2 linked regions of the Homo sapiens genome follow. The protein of the gene in region 1 purifies or fractionates together with the protein of each later gene. This does not show direct contact. Each region holds a gene or a part of one and is shown on either strand. Other genes may lie near its edges.

The links. The genes of interacting proteins can lie anywhere in the genome.
Region 2: the proteins of SLC30A10 (region 1) and CLCN6 purify together in Homo sapiens (affinity purification with mass spectrometry; one large-scale study listed by BioGRID and IntAct). This does not show direct contact.

What each region holds. Positions count from the first base shown.
Region 1 is NC_000001.11:219,918,140-219,922,423, reverse strand, and holds part of SLC30A10 (calcium/manganese antiporter SLC30A10), read left to right. Parts: intron 1-3,929; coding exon 3,930-4,169; intron 4,170-4,284. UniProt on the Homo sapiens protein: Calcium:manganese antiporter of the plasma membrane mediating the efflux of intracellular manganese coupled to an active extracellular calcium exchange.
Region 2 is NC_000001.11:11,833,691-11,837,582, forward strand, and holds part of CLCN6 (H(+)/Cl(-) exchange transporter 6), read left to right. Parts: intron 1-186; coding exon 187-340; intron 341-545; coding exon 546-705; intron 706-793; coding exon 794-900; intron 901-2,276; coding exon 2,277-2,463; intron 2,464-3,308; coding exon 3,309-3,466; intron 3,467-3,652; coding exon 3,653-3,809; intron 3,810-3,892. UniProt on the Homo sapiens protein: Voltage-gated channel mediating the exchange of chloride ions against protons. Functions as antiporter and contributes to the acidification of the late endosome lumen.

The sequences.
Region 1 (4,284 bases):
CCTGCCCAAATTACCTACCTCTCAACAAGACTTTCCTGAGATGTCTCATCACAGGAGACTCTTTTCCTCCCTGAGGAGATTATCGATGTATTTATCTCAGAATCTTCCATTTTGAGAGGCTGAGGCAAGAGGATTACTTGAGGCCAGGAGTTTGAGACCAGCCCGGGTAACATAGCAAACCCCTGTCTCTGCAAAAAAAAAAAAAAAAAAAAAAAAAAAAAAAAAAAAAAAAAAAAAAAAAAAAAAACACACACACACACACACAAACAAGAAGGTAAAAAAATTCTTTTAAAAAGTAAAAAAATTAACCAGTGCAGTGGCACACATCTGTAGTCCTAGATACTTGGGAGGCTGAGATGGAAGGATCATTTGAGCCCAAGAGTTCGAAGTTGGAGTGAGCTATGATTGTGCCACTGTACTCCAGCCTGGGTGACAGAGGGAGACCCCATTTTTTCTCTCTCTCTGTCTCTCTCTCTCGGTCTCTCTCTCTCTCTCTCTCTCTGTCTCTCTCTCTCTTTCACACACACACACACACACACACACACACACACTCAGAGACACCCCACAGAATTTTGCCAGTGCACTGTAGTTAATGGTCATGACCAGGCCTTCTTCATCTTTGCATGGGCAGCCAGAAGATACATTGCATTATTAAATGTCAGGAATTGAGTGGGATACTGCTTTAAACAGTTTTTCAAACTGAAGGCTGCGACAATTTGGGCCCTAGAATTAGTTTAGTAGAAAATTAATTATAATTGAATGAAATAGAATAGATAATATTAAGAAGTCATATATAAGGATGAGTTTTGCTTTCCCATGAATTATTTGTTGCAATTTGTATCTCTGTGCTAGGATGCAAAACATAATTCTTACTGTGGATTATGGGAAAAACAAGTTCAAAAGTTACTATTTTATGTAATTCTTAGGGGGTAATAGTGGGATTTCTCAGAAGGAAAAGCTGAAATTGAATTTTAGAACTTACATGAGGCAGGATGCACAGTAGATCTCTGGTCAGACCACCCAGATTGATATCCCCAGTTAACACTTTTTAGTTGTGTGATTTTGGACAAGTTACTTATGTATTCTGTGCCTCAGTTTCCTCATTTGTAAAATGAAGAGAGTACCAGCCATAAATAATCAAAAGGGTCAGATTCCAGTTTTCCAGAGTTTATTCAAGTGAAAAGTTGGCAATGGCCATTCCGGGACTCATCACTCCAGAGAAATGGGGATAGGGTTCCAAAGTTAAAAGCTAAATTCTTGCTTATATATAAGACAAAGAAATTTAGCAGGGTTACAACATTTTGTATACAAGCCTGGTTTAGTAGTTAAAAAAATTAGTTACAATTTGTTTTCTTTTCCACGCGGCTTGTTTTCTTTATAGCTGGTTTTCATTTCCTTTCCAACTTAAAAGAGTGTATTTAACATTCCATATTAAGGGACTGTGATAGCCATGATGTCTTGTATGAAAAAGGTAAGAGGGAGAATGAAAATCAACAGGAAGAGAGAAGGGGGTCTTCCCTGGGGCCCTTTGCCATTTACAACATTTTACAGAGCAATGCAGGTAAGGAAAAAGACTGAATTCAGACATACAACAGCTTACAGCTGCCTGTCACGTAGCTCAGGCCCTGTAATTCACATTCCTTGAAGGCTCAAAATACTTTTGAGTTCCAACAGCTTAGATTTTGCATTACTTATTTTTACAAGGGTAACCACCTTACAGTCCTTAAAAGGACTTAATGGGTAAGTATAATACGCTTAAATCAATACCTGGAGCATATGTGTTAGTTAGCATAATAATAATAATAGTTATTATTATTAAAGACAAGAGTTACTGTATGTCATAGGAGTTATGACAATCAACCAGAAGCTACTGTTTTATTGAATGCCTACATTGCTATTATATAAACAAAGGCAATTTGGAGTATGGCCCTGATCCTCATGTTACTTACGGAGGAAATGGACCTAACATGTATGAGACAATCAGAGAATAACAGACTGTCTCACGCAGTAAACATGACATCACATGTGTATAGGAGATATTAGGCTTTCATATTTTTATGGTAGCATTTTGTACTGTCCTGAAGCAAGTTAAAGCTTCGATTCTTAGCTCCTTGTAGAGGAACAAAGTATTTTTGAGTTTCCCTTCAGTGGTTCAGGACAGGGACTGGGGAGTTAAAAGCTCCTTTGGGGGTGGGGTGTTGGGAGAAAGGAGCACAGCATTAGAAAATGAGAATGTTAATGTATATATTGAATCAAGATCTTATTATCATAAGTAAACACTCATCCAAAAGGAAATATGGGAATTCTTTTTATTCCTGTATTTTTTTGGGGAAAATTTGAGGCAACTGCCTCAAATTACATTTAGTGTTCACATGCCATTTTACCTATGATGTTATTTAGAATTGTGGAGTTGTTGCCAAGAGGAGGAATTAGCTCAATTAAAGCACCTTCCAAATGAGACTGTTTAGTCTTAGCCATGAGTAAGTTGTTAGTAATTTGGATTATTATTAATTCTACTGCATAAGTCTGTGGAATACATGGAGAGACAAAGCAGACCTTTCTTAATATATATGCTTTCTTCTAGAGCAGTGCTTTGGAAACTTGTATGTGCATTCCAATCATCTGGGCATTTTTTTTTTTTTTTTTTGAGACAGAGTTTCACTCTTGTTGCCCAGGCTGGAGTACAATGGCACTATCTCGGCTCACTGCAACCTCTGCCTCCTGGGTTCAAGCGATTCTCCTGCCTCAGCCTTCTGAGTAGCTGGGATTACAGATGCCCCCACAATGTCCAGCTAATTTTTTGTATTTTTAGTAGAGATAGGGTTTCACCATATTGGCCAGGCTGGTCTTGAACTCCTGACTTCAGATGATCTACCTGCCTTGGCCTCCCAAAGTGCTGGGATTACAGGAGTGAGCCACCACGCCCAGACTCACCTGGGCATCTTTTTAAAACGCAGGTTCAGATTCTACAGATCTGAGGTGGGTCCTGAGATGCATCATTTCTAACAACCTCCTAGGTGATGCTGATGCTGCTGGTTTGCAAACTATACTTTGAATTGCAAGATTCAGATGTTGCTTTTTGTAAAAAACAAACAAAATCCCCCAAAACCAAAACCCAAAACTTTGTGTTTATATTTTATAATTTTTCTGACCAAATTTTTACCTAATTTACTTACTGAATCCCAATTTAGTCTTTGGCTAACAATTGGGCACTCAAATCTTTGCTGAGGAATGCATGTGTTCTATATCATAATCAATATCTTTAGAAACAATTCCCTTAATTAAAGGCACCCACAATTTTTAGTATTATCTGTAGAATTTTAATTTTATTTTATTGTGATAAATGGCTCTTTATGCAATGGAAATGTTGCCAGAGTCCCTGTTCTTGGACACCTCTTAAACCAAATGCCATTTAAATGACCACAGACTAAATACAAAGTAGGTAAATGCTTACAGGGAAAGGGGAAAGTGGATCAAGGTAGAAAAAAGACAATTTGTTTTAAACACTCTTAATACAACTTGTTCTCTCTCCCCTTAAACATGTTTAAAACAACGTAAAGCACAGATGATTGTCTGAAAGAAAAAGAAATCATTTGCACAGCCCCTGTTTTCCAGCTTGGTGCCCTTTGATGGGTGGTGAGTGGTAGCGATGTGGCCCAGTGAGACGGCACAGTCGCTCTTCCTGCAGGTCAGAATCTTCCTAGGCTGTTGCTCTTCCAAGGTACTCTGAGTCCTGCGATGGTGGCCTGGGGTTTTGTTTCCTAAGAAGTAGTTGCCATTATTTTGATTCATCCTACTGTTCTAACCAAAACAAAAACCAAAAAACTCCAAATGGTAACAGATATTCATATACCCGGACACCCAAGTCAGTGAGTGTCACGTGGCTTCCAGATTTGCATCTGTGCTGCAGTAGTCTTTCTTCCTGGCAGGTGTACTTTTGCATGTGATGGGAGATGCCCTGGGGTCCGTGGTTGTGGTCATCACGGCCATCATATTCTATGTGCTTCCCCTGAAGAGTGAGGACCCGTGTAACTGGCAGTGTTACATTGACCCCAGCCTGACTGTCCTCATGGTCATCATCATTTTGTCATCTGCCTTCCCGCTTATCAAGGAGACCGCTGCCATTCTGCTACAGATGGTCCCAAAAGGAGTCAACATGGAAGAGCTGAGTAAGTAGACTGAATTTTGATCCAGAACCACTCTCAATTTAATGTTATTCAGGCCAAAGGACAAGCATTATTTAAGAGCAGTGTTTGAGTTATGTATTCTGAAACACCTTAAATC
Region 2 (3,892 bases), about 210 Mb from region 1:
CAGCCAGGCTTGCCCTTCATTCCAAGCAAGACCAGGACTTCTTTGTAACGCCCACCCAGACAAAAGATTGGTTTCTGCCTCCTGTGTTGGAAGGGGAACTGGTATGGGGTGTGGTCGGGCCCGGTAGGTCTACTGGGCCTTGGCAGGCATCCGGTAGTGGGACTCAGGTTGGCTCTTCCCTTGCAGGTACTTTCAGCCCCGTCACTCTGGCCTTGTTCTTCGTTCTCTATTTCTTGCTTGCATGTTGGACTTACGGCATTTCTGTTCCAAGTGGCCTTTTTGTGCCTTCTCTGCTGTGTGGAGCTGCTTTTGGACGTTTAGTTGCCAATGTCCTAAAAAGGTACTCTGTGTGTGTGCGTGTGTGTGCGCATGTGCATGTGTGTGCACGTGTGCGTGTGTATGCATGTGTGTGCGTGTGCGTGCGTTGATGTGTCTGTGCCCATGCATGCACATATGTGCATAGGCACAAGAGTATGAGCTGTAGGTCCTCCCCACAGCCTATCAGTGTGGTTCAAAGCCATGTTCTCGGTGTTTTCCTTCACTAGCTACATTGGATTGGGCCACATCTATTCGGGGACCTTTGCCCTGATTGGTGCAGCGGCTTTCTTGGGCGGGGTGGTCCGCATGACCATCAGCCTCACGGTCATCCTGATCGAGTCCACCAATGAGATCACCTACGGGCTCCCCATCATGGTCACACTGATGGTGAGCACACTCCCTCCAGGCCCCTGTCAGGCTCAGGGCCACGTCCGCCCCACAGGACCTATTTTTAGGTCTTTGCTTTGTGTTTCAGGTGGCCAAATGGACAGGGGACTTTTTCAATAAGGGCATTTATGATATCCACGTGGGCCTGCGAGGCGTGCCGCTTCTGGAATGGGAGACAGAGGTGGAAATGGACAAGTAAGGCCATGATTTTGCTCATGTCCTAGTTTCAGAATGTATAAGCTCTGAGGCCTAAGGAATGTTGTTATTAGGGTAGGAAACAGTAACTCACTTTTCTTGGGCTGAAAGAAGCAACACACCCATTCCTGAGCATGTGTGAGAATGTGGAGCAGCCCATGGGCTGGGGGCTGCGGGGGCAGGGCAGGGGACACGGGCACTGTGGGACTGCAGTGGGCAGGGCCTCTTCGTGGTGGTTTGACTCCCATGGCATTCTGGTTAGATATGAGGTGAGGTCTCTGGATCAAGTTCGTGATGTGATTGAATGTTTAAGGGTATGCCAAGCCCCAGGAGTGAGAATAGCCTGTTTCACATGTGCCCACCAGAATGCCCTACTGCCAGCCGGGATTGTTCTGGGCATAATCACCTCATAACCCACCTGCTAATCCACAGGTACCTGGGCTTCCTGTGTCTAGATAGCAGGCAAGGCCCTTACGGGCTAACACGGGGGCCAGCAAGCCGTTTCTGTGGAGGGCCAGACAGGAGTTTATTTTCAACTTTCCGGGCTGTATGGTCTCTGTCACGACTACTCGACTCTGTCATTGCAGCAGGAAAGCAGTAAGCGTGACGGACTTGATCAGTGGGCTACAGTTTGCTGTGCCCTGATCTAAAGGGGGACCCAAGTGCTGTGTTTATTTTATTATTATTGTTTTTCTTTTTTGGGACAGGATCTCACTCTGTCGCCTAGGCTGGAGTAGGGTGGCATGATTATAGCTCACTGCAACCTATGCCTCCCAGGCTCAAGCGATCCTCCACCTCAGCCTCCTGAGTAGCTGGGATCACAGGCGCGTGCCACCACACCTGGCTAATTTTTAACATTTTTTTTATAGAAATGGGGTTTTGCTGTGTTGCCCAGGCTGGTTTTGAACTCCTGGGCTCAAGCAATCTGCTGGCCTCGGCCTCCCAAAGTGCTGGGATTACATGCGTGAGCCGCTGCACCCAGCCCACCCATTTACCCAGTTGTGGTAAATGCTGTAGCAGAATTAGCAGTTCAGGGGTAGTATGTGGAGCGTGCTGCAGGGCACCGAGGAGGGCGTGGCCAGCCCCTGGACCAGCAGCCAGGGCTTCCTGGTGAGGGGATGTTGCTGTTGAGCTGAGGGATGAGCCCGAGCCCATCAGCCTGGTACAGCAGGGTACGACATTCCAGGTGCGGGAACAGCATGTGTCGGGGGATAGAAGTACAAAGGAATGCATCGGGTTTGAGGGAGAGCTGGGGCAGTTCAGAAGAGCCCCCCACCCCGCCCGTGGTCTGAGCAGGGCTGGAGAGCCAGCACAGCTTGCTCCCAGGGGCCTGCGGGCACTGTCATGAGGCTGGATGACTTGCCCTCCTCCCCCAGGCTGAGAGCCAGCGACATCATGGAGCCCAACCTGACCTACGTCTACCCGCACACCCGCATCCAGTCTCTGGTGAGCATCCTGCGCACCACGGTCCACCATGCCTTCCCGGTGGTCACAGAGAACCGCGGTAACGAGAAGGAGTTCATGAAGGGCAACCAGCTCATCAGCAACAACATCAAGTTCAAGGTAAAGAAAACGGCATGAGAGGAAAGGCAGGTGAGAGACAAGCGGTCCCGTCTCACACGGCTTAGTGCTTTGCCCACCCCTGGCTGGGGTGGACTTACCGGCTCTCAGGGGAAGTTGGCACTGTTCTCATCACATGCGACAGGGAGAGTAGATTTGACAGCAGGGGCAGCTTTATCAGGCCGTGAAGATGTGTGTGCGTTCTTGCCGCAATGAGCATGTGGACAGATCTGTTTTTCAAGTCAGCAGCTTTCATGGTTTGTTTACCATGTGAGAGTATCAGGGAGAGTTCTAGAGATGCCAGCAACAGAAATGGACTTCGACCTCCTTAAGAAAGAGAAAGAAATCCACAGGAAAGCTCAGGACAGCTGGGAAAGCTGAAGGACCAGAACCATGTGCTGTGGGGAGCAGTGCAGGGTCTAGCAGACATCCCTTGGGTACCAGGAGGAAGGAGCACTGGCCCTGGGTTCCTCCTGATTCCGATTCAGAATCCAGGGAGAGGGGGTATCCTGTTGCCTCACTTGGGTCATGTGCCACTCCTTGGCTTTGGGGGCAGGCACGTTGATTGAAAATTCTATCAAGACAGGATGTAGGAGATGGCTTGTTCCCCTCTGGAGAATCAAGCTGCTCTTCCCAGATTAAAGGAAACCACAGAAGCTGCAGCCAGGTCCTAGGGTTCAGGCTCATTTGAACCACCAGCCTGAGCCACTCTTTTGAACCTCAGCCCCATTAAGTTCCTGCGTCCGGATGTGCTTCTGACCCTCCCTGTCACCCAAATCCTTAAGCTCCATCAGTACTGCTGTGTTCGTTTGCCCATGCGCAGTAGCCTGTGGCCTCCCCACCCACAGAAATCCAGCATCCTCACCCGGGCTGGCGAGCAGCGCAAACGGAGCCAGTCCATGAAGTCCTACCCATCCAGCGAGCTACGGAACATGTGTGATGAGCACATCGCCTCTGAGGAGCCAGCCGAGAAGGAGGACCTCCTGCAGCAGATGCTGGAAAGGAGGTGAGAGCCTGGCGGGGCCCCCACTGCCCGCAGGGCTACACAGCGGTGGGGTGAGCCTTTGGCTCAGATGTTGTGAGGTGGCTCCTGAGTTTCCTGGGAAAGTTGGATGGGGAGCGGGCTGGGAACATGGATCAGAAGCGCTCCCGCTGAGGGTATCCCAGGCAGCATCTGGTTTTTGTGTAACAGATACACTCCCTACCCCAACCTATACCCTGACCAGTCCCCAAGTGAAGACTGGACCATGGAGGAGCGGTTCCGCCCTCTGACCTTCCACGGCCTGATCCTTCGGTCGCAGCTTGTCACCCTGCTTGTCCGAGGAGTTTGTTACTCTGAAAGCCAGTCGGTAAGTCTCTCCGAGGCAGAAATCAGCCAGGCCAGACCTGACGAAGCTCGAGGGGTTGGGCGCTGCCGGCGGGCCGTGAACAG